Regions from separate parts of the Homo sapiens genome. Here region 2 is linked to region 1. Evidence: fine-mapped expression QTL. Tissue or cell type: whole blood. Region 1 holds a variant in brackets; the other region holds the start of a gene. All regions are shown on one strand. Distances are from middle to middle. Region 1 overlaps G2E3 (G2/M-phase specific E3 ubiquitin protein ligase). Region 2 holds the start of SCFD1 (sec1 family domain containing 1).

Region 1 (8,610 bases):
TTCTCTTGCCTGACTGCTCTGGCTAGGACTCCCAAAACTATGTTGAAGTGGTGAGAGAGTATCCTCGTCTTGTGTCGGTTCTCAAGAGGAATGCTTCTAGCTTTTGCCCATTCAGTATAATGTTGGCTGTGGGTTTGTCATAGATGGCTCTTATTATTTTGAGGTATGTTCCCTCAATATGTAGTTTATTGAGAGTTTTTAACATGAAGGGCTGCTGAATTTTATCAAAAGCATTTATAAGGAACTTTAATTTACAAGAAAAAAACAACCCCATTAAAAAGTGGCCAAAGGACATAAGCAGATACTTCTCAAAAGAAGACATATACGCGACCAACAGGCATATGAAAAAAAGCTCAACATCACTAATCATTAGAGAAATGCAAATCAAAACTACAATGAGATACCATCTCACACCAGTCAGAATGGCTATTATCACAAAGTCAAAAAATAACAGATGCGGGTAAGGTTGTGGAGAAAAGGAAACACTTATACCCTGTTGGTGGTAGTGTAAATTAGTCCAACCACTGTGGAAAGCAGTATGGCAATCCACAAAGAGCAAAAAGCAGAACTACCATTTTACCCAGCAATCTCATTACTGGGTATATAGCCAGAGGACTATAAATCATTCTACCATAAAGACACATGCACACAAATGTTCACTGCAGCACTATTCACAATAGCAAAGACGTGGAATCAGCCTAAATGCCCATCAGTGACAGACTGGATAAAGAAAATAGGGTACAAATACACGATAAAATATTGTGCAGCCATAAAAAAGAGTAAGATCATGTCTTTTGCAGGAACATGGATGGAGCCGGAGGCTATTATCCTTAGCACAGTAATACAGGAACAAAAAACCAAATACCGCATGTTCTCACTTGTAAGTGGGAGCTAAATGATAAGAACTCATGAACACAAAGAAGGAAACAAGAGACACTGGGGTCTACCTGACGCAGGAGGGTGGGAGGAGGGAGAGGAGCAGAAAAGATAACTATTGGCTATTGGGCTTAATACCTGGGTGATGAAATAATATGTGCAACAAACCCCCATGACATGTTGTTTACCTATGTAACAAACCTTCACATGTACCCCCAAACCTAAAAAAAAAAAAAAGTTAAAAAAAAAAGATGAACTGTATTTTATTTACTACAAATGCATGAAGGATCCTGGACTGTATCCTGCACTGGGGAATAAAACTGCTCCAAAGGACATCACCGAGGCAATTGACCAAAACAATATTTAGTTGAAAGTATTGTATTTATGCTAAGTTTCCTGAAATTGGTATCCATATTTAGGTTATTTAGTAGACTATCACTGTTCTTAGGAAATACTGAAGCATTAAGGGGTAGGGGGACCAGATATATGCAACCTACTCTCCAACGGTTCAGAAAAGGGAAGTTACATGCAAATGTACAATACTGCAGGATGATAAAGTGAATGTGGAAAATAATAAAGAGTGGTTAATCTAGGTAAGGGCATATGTAGTTCTTTGTACTTTTCTTGCAACTTTCCTGTAACTTTAGAATAATTTCAAAATAAAAAAAGGTTTAAAAATAATTGAATTAAAAGTAATATAAAACATTCCCAAAAAATTCAAGATCAAGATTAATACAGTGTGATGGTTAATTTTATGTGTTACCTTTACCAGGCCACAGGACGCCCAGATATCTGGTTAAACTTATGTTTGGATGTGTCTGTGAGAGTGTTTCTGGAAAAGATTGGTAAACTTTACTCAGTTTACTGGTGAACTGAGCAAAGCAGATGGCCATCCCCAGCGTGGGTAGACATTAGCTAGTCCACTGAGGGCCTGAATAAAACCAGAAGGCAGAAAAAGGTTAAATTTGCTGTCTGACTGCTTGAGGTAGGACATCAATCTTCTGTCCTTGGTGTTCCTGGTTCTCAGGCCTTCAGATCCGGACTGGAACCTATACCATCAGCTGTTTGGCTCCAGACATTCAAACTACACTGCGGGACTTTCCTGGGTCTCCAGTTTGCAAACAGATAATGGGACTGTTCACACTACATAATCATGTGAGTCAATACCTTATAATAAATTAATCAATCCTTCCCTCTCCTTCTCTACACACACAGAGACACACACACACGCACACACACACACACACACACATATCCTGTTGTTTCTGTTTCTCTGGAGAACTGTGACTAATACACCCATGTTACCTCGGGATAGATAGTTAATACACTTTATGTGCTCCTACAAATTTGGAGACAAAAAGAAATACTCTTAAAGATTTGTTAGTTACTTTGGTTCACAGCAACAGCTAAGATAAAATTAGAAGAAAGACATTCAATGGTAGAGGTCAAAAGCTATTAGAATTTTTTTTTCATGAATCAATTATTTACATTCTAGGAAATAATAAACATATCTTAAAAATGTACATAAAAGCCAGGCACAGTGTTATGCACCTGTAGTCCCAGCTACTTGAAAGGCTGAAGCAGGAGGATTGCTTGAGCCCAGGAATTTGAGTCCACCTTGAGCAACATAGTGAGACCTCCATCCAAAAAAAAAGTACATAAAACATCAATATGATCTTCAATGTTTTTTAACCATAAATTATTACAAAAAGTAGCATGGTATAGTAGAAAGAGTACTAGGGGCATTGAAGGTATGAAGTTTAGACTTTCCTTCATGTTCTATATGTTTTTTCCTGAGACCTCAGCCTCAATTTTATCATCCCTCAAACTAGAAGCTAATTACAGGTTATTGTAAGAATTAGAAACAACACATAAACGCCACAAGAGTACCTGGCAAATTTAGTCAATCATTGGTAGTTTTTCTTTTAATTAAAAAAAAAAGGATAATATATCTTAACTGGATTTATCTTAGAAATATAAGATTAGATATCATCTGAAAAGTAAAGTAATACACCATGTTAATACAATAAGGGGTGAAAAAAGTATGACCATCTCAATAGATGCAGAAAGAGCATTTGACAAAATTCAACAACCAATCATGATAAAACTGTAGGACAAACCAGAAACAGACGGGAATTTTCTCAACCTAATAAAGGGCATCTACAAATGTGCATTAATTTCCACACTGTACTGTGACACAATGTCAACAGATACAAAAGGGCATCTGACAAATGTCAATATCCAATCATAACAAAACTGTAAAGCAAACTGTGGGTAAAATAAATTTTTTCAACCTAGCGAAGGGAATCTACAAACGTTCACCTTAGTCTCTGATTCAACAGTGTACTCCAAGGGAAAAGAAGACAAAACTGTGAAGGATGAAGTAAAACTGTTTTCACATATGATCATCTACATAGAAAATCCTACCAACATATTTATAAGAATAAGTGACTTTAACAAGTTGTAATGAAACAAGGCAAATCTGTATAACAGCAAGAATTAATCAGAAAATTAGAGAACAATTCTATTCACAATAGGTAAAAACTTAGTAAAAGATGTGGAAAAAGACTACACTCTGAAAAGCTACAAAACACTGCTGAGAGAAATGAAAGACCTAAATAAATGAAGAGATAGACAATGCTCATGGGCGTAATATTGTTAAGATGTCAATTTAACACAATCCCAACCAAAATCCCCAGCAGGTTTTTTTTTTTTTTAAGATACTGGCATGCTGATTCTAAAACCTATATAAAAATGCAAAAGTCTTGTAATAGCAAAAACATTTTTAAAAAGAAAAAGTGGTCTCCAACTATGTGATTTCATGACTTCTTATAGAGCTATGTTAATCAAGACAGATGTGTAGCTCAATAGATCATAAGGGAAAAGTCAGATATATAGCTCAATAGAACACAAGGGAAAGGCCAGAAACAGACCCAGACAATTGCTTTTCAACAAAGATACCAAGGTAATTCACTGTATTCAAATGGTAGTCTATTCAATAAATAGTATTGAAATAACTGAATGCTTTGGGCGGAGGGTGGGGGGAAGAACATTGACCTCATATATTAAAACTTAATTCAAATTGGATCACAAGAAAAAAAACTTCTAGAAGAAAACATAGTGAAGAATCTTCATGATCTTGGGGTTTGGCAAAGATTTCTTAGGAAACTGAATCATAAAAAACACTGATGAATTAAACATCAAAATTAAGAACTTTCTAATCAAAAAAACATAGTTAAGCAAAGAAAAAGGCAAAACACAGATTGGGAATAAACACTGGCAAAACATATACCTGACAAAGGATTTATATCCACAATGCATAAAGAATGCTTACAACTCAAATAGACATCACAATAAAATGAACAAAATGGACAAAAGATTTGACCAGACATTTAAAAAAAACACAACATAGCCAACAAGCAAAAGAAAATATGAACATCACTGGTCATAAAGGAAATGCACATTAAAATAGCAAAAAAAAAAAAGCAAACCCACTACAGCACCCACAAGAATACTTGTCTCACAAAAAATGAACTCAAAATGAATTACAGCTCTAAATACAAAATGTAAAACTATAAAATTTCTAGAAAAAACACAGAGGAGAAAATTTCTGTGACCTTATGTTACGTAAGATTTCTTAGATACAATACTGACAGCACAAGACAAAAAAAGATAAACTGTACTTAAAGTTAGTATCTTCTGCTCATCAAAAGACACTGTTAAGAGAATAAGACAAGCCTCAGACTGAGAAAGTATTTGCAAATCATAATCTGATAAAGG[A/G]CTTAGTTAGATCCACAATATATTTTCTGAAAAAACTCTTCAAACTTAGTAATACAGAACACATCCACGAAAATGGTGGAGCAAGGGGCTCTGCAGGCCTGTACCTCCCTAGAAACACAGAAAAACCTGGCAAAAAACTCACAATCAACAATGTCTCAACAAATAGAGAATATCAATAAAGAAGTAGAAATGATAAAAAGGAAATAGAAATTCTGCAGCTGAAAAGTACAATAACTGAAATAATAAATTCATTACAGAGGTTTAACAGCACGTTTGAGCAGGCAGGAGAAAGAATCAGCGAACTTGAAGACAGGTTAGTTGAAATTATCCAGTCTGAAGAGCAGAAAGAAAAAAAATGAAAAATAAACAGAGCCCAAGAGACTATGAGACACCATCAAGTATACCAATATATGCTTAATAGGAGTCCAAGAGGGACCGGAGAAAGTGGAACAGAAAGAATGTTTGAAGAAATAATAGCCAAAAACTTCCCAAATTTCATGGAAGACTGAAATCTATACAGGTAAGACTTCAATCTACACATTTTTAAGAAGCTCAAGATCTTTAATCAGGACAAATTCTAGGAGATCCACATTGAGACACAGTATAGTCAAACTGACAAAAACAAAGACAAAGAATCTTGAAAGCAGCAAGAGAGAAGTGATTAACACATACAAAATATCCCCAATAAGATTAAGAGCCAAATTCTCATTTGAAACCATAGAGTTCCAGAAGGCAGTGAGATGACATATTTAAAGTGCTGAAAGACAGGAAAAAAACCCAAACCTGTAAGCAAAGAATCCTATCTGCAGCAAAACTATGTTTCAAAAGTGAAGATGAGTACACATACTCACATGGGAGGCAGGCAAGTAAACAAATATTTCACACACATGCAGTGTAGCCTTACAGAGGTGGTGATATTATAACGTAATTGTGAAAAATAAATATTCTGAGCAGACAAGGCAGAAAAAGCATTCTAAGTAGAGTGTGTGCAAAGGTACAACAGTGTGTGAAAGCCTGGGATGTTTGGGGAATGTCAGGAATTTCTTCTGGAAGTTGCTCTTGCTGATTCTGCCATTTGGTTGGATTATATAAATCTCCTTGGATTGGATTATCAGATAGTAAGTAATATAATCCCCCCCCTTCACCAGCTGGTCCTAACCCTGACTTCGTGGGCAGGTCTTATTCCAGTCCTAGCCCCTTCCACTGACCAAGTCAGGCTCTAAATAACCAGCCCAATCCAAAGTACCCTTCTTAAAGCAGGTGGCATCTTTTTTACTACAGTTCAGGCAATAAAGGCTATTCTGTCACAACTCCCACAGAACCAGGTCTTCTCCTGTCTAAAAAATAAGGCCTTAATTATATTTTAACAGGACAATGTATCTGCTACCTTATGTGACAGAGCAATTAAACTTTTAAGATTCCAGGCAGGACCCAGGCAGAGGAACATGGCAGAAAGAACATTACACTTGAATTATACATTTTCTGTGTTTGAACTCCTTGCTCTGCCTTGTGTCCAATGGAGATGATAATACCTACCTATTAGGGTTCTTATATGCAAAGCAGGAGAAGTAATTCGATGGAGAGAAGGAAGGGTGAAAGGAATTCAGAAAGATCAGAAGTTTCTGAGATCAAGAAAGACCATAAAGTTTTTAGGTCCCTAACTGTTAATGGTGGTTATCCCTGGGGAGAGAGAAGGGGTAGGGGCTTTTTCTTTTAATTTCTTATAAATTTTGGCATTGTTTGACTTTTTACAATGAACATAATTATGTACTTAAAATATATTTGGCATATATATTATACCTCAATAAAAAGTTTCTTAAAAGCTTATATTCTCTGGAAAATCATCCAGGAGACAGACAAGAATGGCTGTTTCTCAGAAGGTCTGGTAGACCTGGGGTCTAGGGTGAAAGGGAAACTTTTAGTAGATCTGTCCTACTAGAGATGCTAATGGGACACCAGACAGTAAGTCAAAGCCATACGAGGAAATAAAAACACCAGTAAAGGTAATTACAGAAGTAAATATAAAAGCCAGTAGTATTATTGCACTTTTGGTAATTCTCTTTTTCCTTTATGATTTAAAAGAAAAACACGTAAAATAAATATAAATCAATGTTATTGGGCACATTATGTATAAATGTAAAATAAGCAAAAAATATAAAATGTAATTTGACACAATAACATTTAGGAAGAAGGATGAGATATACAGAAGTGTAATTTTTGTATACTATGAAAGCTGAGTGGGTATTAATTCAAACTAGGTTGTTATAAGTTTAAGATATTAATTGTAATCCCCAAGATAGCCACTAAGAATATAACTAAAAAATATGTGCAGAAAAGGTAATGAGAAGGGAATCAAAATGGTACACTATACAAATCAATTAAACAAAAGGCAATAAGGAAGGAAATGAGGAACAGAAAGATAGTATTTAGAAAACAAATACTAAAATGTCAGAAATCCTTCCTTAACAGTAATTAAATGTAAATGAATTACACGCTCCAATTAAAAGGCAAAGGTTGACAGAATGAATTTTTTTAAAATCCATACATACACTATCTACTAGGGTCAAGCTATAGATATCAAAACACAAATAGATGGAAAGTAAAATGACAGAATAAGATACTTCATACAAACAGTAATCAAAAGTAAGCTTGGGTGTTTATACTAATGTCAGACAAAACAGGCTTTAAGTTGAAGATTGTTACAGGACTCAAAGGACATTAAAGACTGACTAAAAAGTTCAATCCATCAAGAAGACATGACAATTATAAACACAAACCCACCTAATAAGAGCCCCAAAATATACAAGGCAAAATTTGACAGAAATGAAAGGAGAAATAGTTTAGACTTAACATATACAGAACACTCCACCCTACAACAGAATGAAACATTCTTCTCAAATGCACGTGGAACAATATCCATGGATATACCATGTTAGACCACAAAATAATACATTTTACAAGACTGAAATCACACAAAATATCCTCTCCAATGACTATGGAATGAAACTAGAAATCAATAAAAGGAAAACTGGAAAACTGAGAAACATATGGAGATTAAATAACAACTTTAAATAGACAAAAAGTCAAAAAAGAAATCACAAGGGAAATTAGAAAATACTTAGAGACAAATAAAATCAAGCCCCCAAAACAATGACCCAACTATATGCCCAAAGAAACTAGAAAAAGACCAAACTAAACCCAAAGCTAGCAGAAGGAAGGAAATAATTTAGAGTCCAGATAATGTAATAAAAAAATTTTTAAATTGAGAATCAATAAAATAAAAATTGCTTGAGAAGATCGACAAAATTGAAAACGTTTAGTTAGATGACCCAGAGAAAAAAAAGAGAAGACTCAAATTACTAAATCAGAAGAAATGAAAGTGGGACACTGCTACAGACCTAATACAAATAAAAAGAATTAAATGAGACTATTATGAACAATTGTACTCTAAGAAGTTAAAAGTTAACAAATTAAACAATAGGTTAAACAAATAACAAAAGTGACAAGAAGAAATAGAAAATTTCAACAAATCTACAAACAAGAGATTGAATCACTAATGAAGAACCTCCCAACGAATAAAGTCCTAGCCCAGATGGGTTCACTGGTGAACCCTATTAAACCTTTGAAGAAAAATTGGCACCAATCTTTCTCAAACCCCTCCAAAAGATATTATGACACTTCCTAACTCATTTTATGAAGCCACCAATACCCCGATACCAAAGCCAGAAAAAGACATCACAGAAAATAAAACTACAAGCCAATTATCTCTTATGAACATAGATGCAAATATCCTTAACAAACTACCAGCAAACTGATTCTGATAAAGAAAATTTTGTACCATAACCAAGTGGGATTTATCCCAGAAATGCAAAGGTGGTTCAGCATATGGAAATCAACCAATATAATATACCATACTAATAGAGAAAAAGGAAAAGGTCACATGCTCATCTCAAT
Region 2 (8,610 bases), 51 kb before region 1:
ACCCTTATTGCCTCCAGTGGGGAAGATACCCATGTTTGAGAGGCCTAAGAAGAGACCCGGAGCCAGGAAATGAGACACAGGGTTTTAATGGGGGCAACACACATAGGAGAGTCCAGTGACAGTGGGCTGGACAGGAGAACTGTATACTCAGTGGCAATGCGCTGGGCAGGAGAACCATAACTGCATGCAAAAAGTGGTTTATATAGCAAAAATGTGGTTTATACAGCATTTTCACTTAACATTTCCCTAACAACCTCCACCTGGCAACCTTCATTCAACCCAAAACTCGGGGCCTTGATCCACTGCATGGCCTATGTTTCACTGGATGGGCTGGGGGCTCAGATGTTCCTCACAGACAAGGAATGAATCTCCAGGTGGGCCATTTTGATTCCCTAGCTTGAAACACATATCCAGGTGTGTCTGCAATACAGGGTCATTCTCAGGGCACGCTTAAGTTATTGCTATCAGGTGTATTTACCATACACCTACAGACATAATTTTTGGTAAAATGTTATTACCTAATGTCCAGCCAAAAATACACATTACCAATATTACCTACTTCAGAGGCCCACAGGTTTTACATTAAATAAAAATGTATTTTATTTAATGTATTTATAATATTAAATATATTTAATATAAACAAAAAAACAGTTTAACACTTAAAACTGAAATAACACAGGAAGCACGGAGGGGGTTTCAGGATTAACTCTCCCACTGTGCATTTGCAGAGCTCTTCCTCCACCTCCAGGCAATAAAGACACCACCACCCTGGCACTCACGCCCAAGAGGGAGGAAACCCTGTTTCTGGGAACAGCTGTTCACACTCTTGAAGCCTGACAACTTGGAAGAACGAAAGCCTGAGCTGCCATGTGAGCCTCAGGTGTTTAGTATGCTGCACAGTTAGGCCTTAGCTAACTGAAAGAGGCCAGCAGCAGCAAATAAGATAATCCTACATTCGCCTTCTCAGCCCAGTCTGAGATTTTCTCCAACTTTGAGCCTTGGCTAACTTATTAAAAGGTATTTTGATATACCTTTTACCTATATCAATATACCTATTGATATACCTATATACCTATATACCTATATACCTATACCTATATAGGTATACCTATATGCCTATATACCTATACCTATATAGGTATACCTATATGCCTATATACCTATACCTATATAGGTATACCTATACCTATAACAAAAAGGATTTGTTAATGGAGTACACGGCCTGTGTTCAGAGTTTACAAGAACGTAATTTTACTTTTATCAGAGTTTACCCAAGGCTTAAACCATGACTTTATCTGAAATGACAAACCATTTTTCTTATTGGCTCTAAATATACTACAGGTTGAGCATCCCAAGTCTTAATATCTGAAACCTGAAATGCTCCAAAATCAAAATTTTTTAAGCTGGTGCTCGGATTTTGAAATTTGGGATGCTCAACCAGTAATAATGCAAATATTCCAAAATCAAAAACACTCCTGGTCGCAAGCATTTTGGATAAGGGATACTCAACCTGTATCCATATTCCTAGACTTGGTTAATGTCATTACTTACATACACACTATTCATTCATTCAACACGTTTGATGAGTGCTCACCACAGGCACTGTAGTTATTGGGGATCTAGCAACTGAACAAAACAGTGAATAAAATCGCCTGTCCTCAAGTAGCTTTCATTCTAATTGGGGGATAAAAAAAATAAAATAAAAAAAAAGTAAAACATATGGTATGTAGATCATGGTAAGTGCTTTGAAGAAAGGTAAGATTGGGAAAGGGGAAGATGGAGTTGAGGTGTAATTTTAAACAGAATAATTGGGGAAAGCCTCCTGAGAAGGTAACATTTGAGTAAAGACCTAAAGGAAGTGAGGGAGTGAGCCATGGAGATTATCTCTGAAACAGTACTCCACAAAGAAGAAACAAATACAAAGGCTCGAAGGTGGGAGCATTCCTGGTGGGTTCAAGGAGAGGGAAGAGAAATAGGGAGTGAGGTCCAAAAGCTACATGGAAACCAGATCGTATAAAGCCTTGTAGAACACTGTAAGATCACTTTGGCTTTTATCATGGTTGAAATGGGAAGATGCTGGAAGATTTTGAGCAAACATATGGCATGATCAGTTTGGGTACTGTGTGAAAAATAATGAAGGAGAACAGGATTGTAAAAGCAAAGAGACCAAATAGGTTACTGCAGAAATTCATGGTGGACAGGACCTCGGAATAGCAATGACAACAGTCAGATCCTGGATGTATTTTCAGAGTAGAACTGACAAGATTTACTGAAAGATCTTACATGAGACATGAAAGAGACAAGTCAAGAAAACTTCAAGGTTTTTGACCTGAACAACTAAAAGGACGGAACTGCCATTAACTGATATGGAGTAGACTGAGTTCAGATGGGACGGCCAGACTAGGGATATAAACCTGGGAATCATCAACATACAGATAATACTGAAAGCTAAGGCGCTAGATGAGAACACTAATGGGACCCTGCAATGTTGAGAAGCTGGGAAGATGTGCAAGAACCTGTAACGAAGACGCATTCAATGAAGAACAACAGTAACACGGAGCAGGAGGCAACTGATTCTACCTATTGAACTGAAGGTATGGATAGAGGGGACAGTGAACCAGGAAGAAAGGAGATGGCTTGTGGGATGACCTTCAAAAGATCAATAAAGATTTTTCAGGAGACCAATAAAGATTTTTCAGGCAGGCAAAGCAAGAAACAGGCACGTTAGTTTACCTCTATCTTACTTTCCTCACCTGTAAAATGGAGATAATACATAATCACCTAATGCAATGCCTAACAATAGTAAATGCTCAATAAATGCCAACTATTATCTCATCCACCCAAATATTCTAGTATCTAGAATATTTAAGGACTGTGAGTTATCTCCCAAAACATTCTCCATAGGCATGAGGGAAATAGCTAATTCTGCATTATAATATATATACAAGGATTTACCTTCCTCTGAAAATAAGGCAGAATTCAATGACAGTAAAAATTTGATAAAAAATAGATCTAGCACTACCTAGTAATTCTGTAAAATCTTACTATGTTTATTTCTGCAGAAATACAAACGATTAGATTTTAATGATCTACAAAATTTCTGCATACAAGTTTACGGCCACGCAAATTTATTTTTCAAAAAGCTCTCTTGTATTGGTACAGTTTTACTGACACGTTATTTTAATATGTAGTATAGTCATCAGAAACACAGTATTAAAACAAATGGAGCTTCCATTTGTTTAAACATATACAACGAATGGCAGGTATGCCCCAAATCTTATTTGAACTTCCCTATATTTAGTTATGCCTGACTTCACCTGATAGGTTATACTAAATTATTTACTGGGAAAAGCAGAACGCAACTCAGTATCTTTTGTGTGTCATTACTAAATTGAAGTCTATCACTTTTTCTTTAAATGCCAAAGGAAGGAATCAAGTACAGCCCAAATCCCTTCTGTAGGTCATATGAATTATAAATTTATTTTCCTATTCATATTTATATCCAACAGAGCATAATTTCAGGAAACAGAATTCCAAGTATGCACATTCTTGATGCCTTATTTCTATTAGCTCCTCAGAATAAATTGCTTGAAAACTTTTAAGACAACTAGTTAACAAGTATAAACCTTTAGTTTGTAGCTAACAGGTATAAACCAAGTTGTCATGAGAAGTTTTCAAGTAAGGCAAAACTAATTTCTAAGACGGAAAAAAACCCAAAACTCAAGAGAAGAATATGTGCCTTTTTACATTTCTCTGCATAAATAGAAGCTATATAAACATGCTCTATTGAAGATAAAATATTATTTTAAAACAATGTGTCAAACAATTAAAATGAGAAAGCTATTAATTCATTTGTTTTGCCATTCTTCAATGCCTTCCAGCAAGCTGAAGGAGAAAATGTTTATCACCAGGCATTTTTCTGCAGGTACCCCCAAAAGACTGGTCCGAAGTAGAGAAGTGGCGCAAAGCAAGCCGCTGTGAAAATACCTAAATTCTCTGAGTGTCAGAAAATGGGAGTTCTCTTAAAAATCAAAACCAGGAGAACTGAACCACGCACAGAAACTCGGAGACCTCATAGGTGGCAACATAGATAAGAAGCTATCAGCTGCTAGATCTTGTTGTGATGGCCTTCTGATGCCCACTAGGAAGGAGACAAGAGCAGGGCCGTAGCAATCCGCCCACCGCTGAAGCTCCTTCTCCTGCACCACAGGAGGAACCGAGTCCTCAAGCTAATGGCAACTTCTCCCCAAAAACTCAAAGGGGAGGGGCTCTTGATGTTCTAGGGACTGGATTAAACTCCTGGAGATCGGTCTCTGAGCTGCACGCACCAGAGGAGAAGGATGTCGTCGGGGCAGTCACGAAGCTTCAAGGAGAAGAGAATAAGTCAGTACCTGTCTGCCTTTCCCGAATACTGGCTGCTGCTGCTGCTGTCGCTGCCGCCGCCGCCGCCATCTTGGCTCCCACGAGCCACTGCCCGGCTGGGGAGCGGAGCGGGGGGATGACGTGGCTGCCCTTACCGCCCCGGAAGCAAAGCCCGGAAGGGCGGGGCCAAAGGGTGTGCCTGAGTTCCGGACCCCACCTCCTCCAGGAAGACCTCCACTCTCGGTAGAACTGGGAGACCCGGTGCAGGTTAATTCAGTGGCCCGTAATGTTAGGCGAATACTAAGAGTTTTTATCCTACCGAATCAAGCCACACTCTCTCAAATGGTAGCAACATTAAATTGAGCTGTTAGGGTAGGAGCGTGTAGTGCTAAGAACCTAATTACTGAACTGTTGGTTTGGTGACTTACAGAGCACTTAAAGGGTGATAATGCTCTAGGAGTATAAGGACCACAGGACTGAAGTAAATGAAGCTCCTGAAACACAGGCAACATTTTAACGTTAGCTCTCGTTTCTCAGTGCAGCAGGAGTCTTCCCTTTGCTCCTTTCTCCAGAGAAACGGAAAGCATTGGAGCATTACTCTGATCTGGCATATTTCTCAGTCGCATCTCTTTAAAAAAAAAGGTGTAGCTTTATGGTGGCGTTCTGCCGGCATGGACACGGGATCCAGGGAGGTACAAAATGAGAAATTAGCATTTCTCCTCTTTCCTTGTAGTAATTGCAAAATCACCTTGCCGTGGGAAGGAAGTCAAGCAGTAGTGGGGTGTGTTGCCTAGGCTGGAGCGCGCAATCAGGGATCACTGCAGCCTCAAATTCTGACGGTCAAACGATCCTCCTGCTTCAGTCTCCCAAGTAGCTAGGGACTACAGGGGCACACCATCAGGCCAGGCTGATGTGCTGGTTTTTGTTGTTGTTTTGTTTTTGAGATAGTATCTCACTGTCTGTCGCTCAGGCTGGAGTGCAGTGGCAGAATCTCGGCTCACTGTAGTCTCGACCTCCCGGACTCAAGCGATCCTCCCAAACTATCCTTCCACCTCAGACTGCCCACTAGTTGGGACTATAGGCAGGGGTCACCACGCCCGGCTAAATTTTTTTTTTTTTTTTTTGTAGAGACGGGGATTCACCATGTTGGCCAGGCTGGTCTTGTGCTGGCGGTTTAATGTACACTTGAAGCCACGTGACCGCAAAATATATGGGATAGATGATTTCTAACTTAATCCATAGATTTTACTGTATGACCAAAATGGATACACAATGACACCTCATTTCCCGAGTTCATTGATGACGCTTCATTATGAAGTTGCACCAAATTCTGAAATGAAATCACTCTGTACCTCAAAAGCTTAACTTTCACAATTATATAAATGAAATGGTTAGCCTAACGATTATATATTGTTTTATAGTGTGAAACACTGGCTTTTTTCATTAATAAAAATTTATTTTTGTGACATTTAAAACAGGTTATCTTATTACATAATCTCTGCCGGGTGCGGTGGCTCACGCCTGTAATCCCAGCACTTTGGGAGGTAGAGGTGGGCAGATCACCTGACGTCAGTAGTTCGAGACCAGCCTGGCCAACATGGTGAAACCCGGTCTCTACTAAAAATACAAAATTAGCCGGGTGTGGTGGTGGGCGCCTTTAATCCCAGCTACTGGGGAGGCTGAGGCAGGAAGAACTGCTTGAACCTGGGAGGCGGAGGATGCAGTGAGCAGAGATCGCGCCACTGCACTCCAGCCTGGGTGACTGAGTGAGATTCTGTCTCAAAAAAGAAAAAAAAATTATGTAATCTCATTTTTATAGCTAATTGGCACATTCATTAAGAAATTAACTGGAATACATGTGTGTCTTCAGTACTATTACTAATATTTTGAAGGAATCTTCAATGATCTAGGTGTGTTCCAACTAAACAAATTATTTCTGCCCTATGGGAAAGTTCTACTGCATTCTACAGTCTCTATGAAATATAAAATGTCTGAGAGCCCAATTTTGCTCATTTGGGTACTTCCACTTTCAAATGCAAATCCATCATTGAGCCACTTCAGTTCCATCACAGATTCTCTCCCAAGACTATGAGTCATGTTAAAACCACGAAGACAATTTTAAAATTGATGTACACTGCATATATATGAAATGATAAAAACTCCTGACCAAGTGCACAGAATGTGGGCAATAAATTTATAGAAAAATACACCTCACAGAAGAACAGCAACCATAGACAAATAGCCCTTGTAAGGCTGAGACTGAATAAGGTATTTGTTTTATTAGAATCAGAAAGACTGAAAATAATCTATGGCTACAGATTGTTCATTAACCTAATTTACTATAGCCATTTATCTGAGTCCAGATTTTTGGCTTAAATAATTTATTCTGGTAAGCTATTTTACATTAGAGGATACATAGTTTTAACACAGATTCCCTCATTTCTATAGGTTCCTGGGTGTCAGACACTAACTGCTTGCTTATAGGATCTCTCAAATGTGGAGAGTAAAGGAATCTTGTATCTTTCAGTTTCGTCAGAATCTTAATCTTATTAAATCCCAAAAAATTACTTAGTTTAAATAGGCAGTTTACCTTTAGTGGCATAAACACATTTATTTATTTATAAAACATTGTTATAAATGTCACGCTTTTTGGTTAATCTGGCAGTCTTTAAAAGGGGGGGAAATAGGCTGACATATAAACGATCACCTAGCATAATACCTGGCATAGTGTAGGTACTGGGATATGTTTATGAATTAGAAGAGATAATGGTCAAAATCAGAACTTGAAAACTGAGTCTCTTCAAGACAATCCAAATTTTCCTAAACCACAGATAATATACATTCAAGTAATTCATCATTAAATGGGTTATGTTTTGTATTGCATTACTTGAAGCATGAAACTTTGTATTGCATTACTTGAACCATAAAAACTAGTTTAATAGCTTATTTTAAAGTAACAATGCAGTACATGATAATCACTATATAAAAGAATTACATGTTTATAATGTAATGATTTTGTTCTGATCATTTTCTTATAATGACTGAATGCTAAAGGCACAGTCACTGAAAAAACTTACCTAATATACTCCCCTTGACTTAGTATTTAGCACTGAATACAAAAGTTCCAATAGCTTCCATATAATTAGGGGAAAAATTTACAAATGCATAAAATAGAAACCAAGGTGAATTCTCATGCTGGTAATCAATCAAAGGCTTTTTACTTAACCCAAACAAAAAAAGTCACTTCCTCAAATTACAGAAACTAAAAATTACAAAGTATAAAATTGTAAGTTTCTGGTGAGATATTTTAAAGAATATCTTGAATAGTAGAGAATTGTATAAAAGGTGTTAAAGTTTCCATATTGGAAAGTGTTTAAAAACAATGAATATCAAACTAACCAAAACCATTAACAGTAGATGCATTATAGATCAATTTATAGTTTTCCTCAACATTAAGAGCAAGAGAAAACAGCCTTAAAATATACAACATTTAGGCAATTGCAATATTTAAGAAATATATGTACACATTTATAAAGATTTATAGCATAATTCTTTTTTAAAATCTAATGTAAGAATTATGCACTGGTTATAAAATTAATAAGAAAAGAACAATTATAATACCAACCATTTGACAAAATGACACTGCAGAAAATAAATAACCTACAGGTTTCTCTGATATTCCTTGACCATACAGATTAATCTAAAAATGGTAATAATGGAACATCCTTCAAACTAGAAAACATTTTGCAAAATAAATATTTATGCTTCACTTTAAAACATGAATATCCTAAATTATTTACACCATCTTATCACTAAGGCCCTGTCTATATATAAAATAAGTCAAATGAGGAATTGAAATACTGTTTTTAATTGTAGCTAACCCAAGTACACTGCCTCTCCACCTGCCACCCCCACCCCAACAAAGTATGTGTGTGTGACTTAATCAGCTTTAATTTCTACCCTAGGGGAAATTAATTGCAACTAAAAACCAGAAAATAGCTTTAACTAGGTTTTATTGGTTTGTATTGGTTTTTAGCTGTAATAAAAATAAGGTGGATAAAGAAACAAATATCTTTTTATCAACATATTTGGAATAAAAACTGTATGGTGACTTTGGGGTTTATATTAGCTATTCAAACTCTTTGATAATTGATCTTTCAATTACTATTGGTGAGACAAAAAAATTCAACCAAAGCCAAAGAAATGTCTTGTTTAATGTTCTTAAATATTTCAAGTTAAAGTAAAACA

The links.
Region 2: SCFD1 starts here. The variant in region 1 is fine-mapped to the expression of SCFD1 in whole blood (INTERVAL, PIP 0.95).

The regions. Positions count from the first base shown.
Region 1 is chr14:30,566,928-30,575,537 of GRCh38, reverse strand. The region is part of intron 1 of G2E3 (G2/M-phase specific E3 ubiquitin protein ligase); the gene reads right to left. It overlaps G2E3-AS1 (G2E3 antisense RNA 1), which reads left to right. Exons shown (of 4, transcript NR_151720.1): 2 at 1,904-2,031. Among named protein-coding and RNA genes, the nearest start is that of G2E3-AS1, 6.1 kb to the left of the region's middle. The variant A/G (reference allele first, on the strand shown) is at 4,657.
Region 2 is chr14:30,618,181-30,626,790 of GRCh38, reverse strand. SCFD1 (sec1 family domain containing 1) reads right to left here and starts at 4,472. Exons shown (of 25, transcript NM_016106.4): 1 at 4,392-4,472. The coding sequence starts at 4,452. G2E3 (G2/M-phase specific E3 ubiquitin protein ligase) reads right to left here. Exons shown (of 15, transcript NM_017769.5): 15 at 6,727-8,610. RefSeq lists enhancers at 4,190-4,869, 3,939-5,138.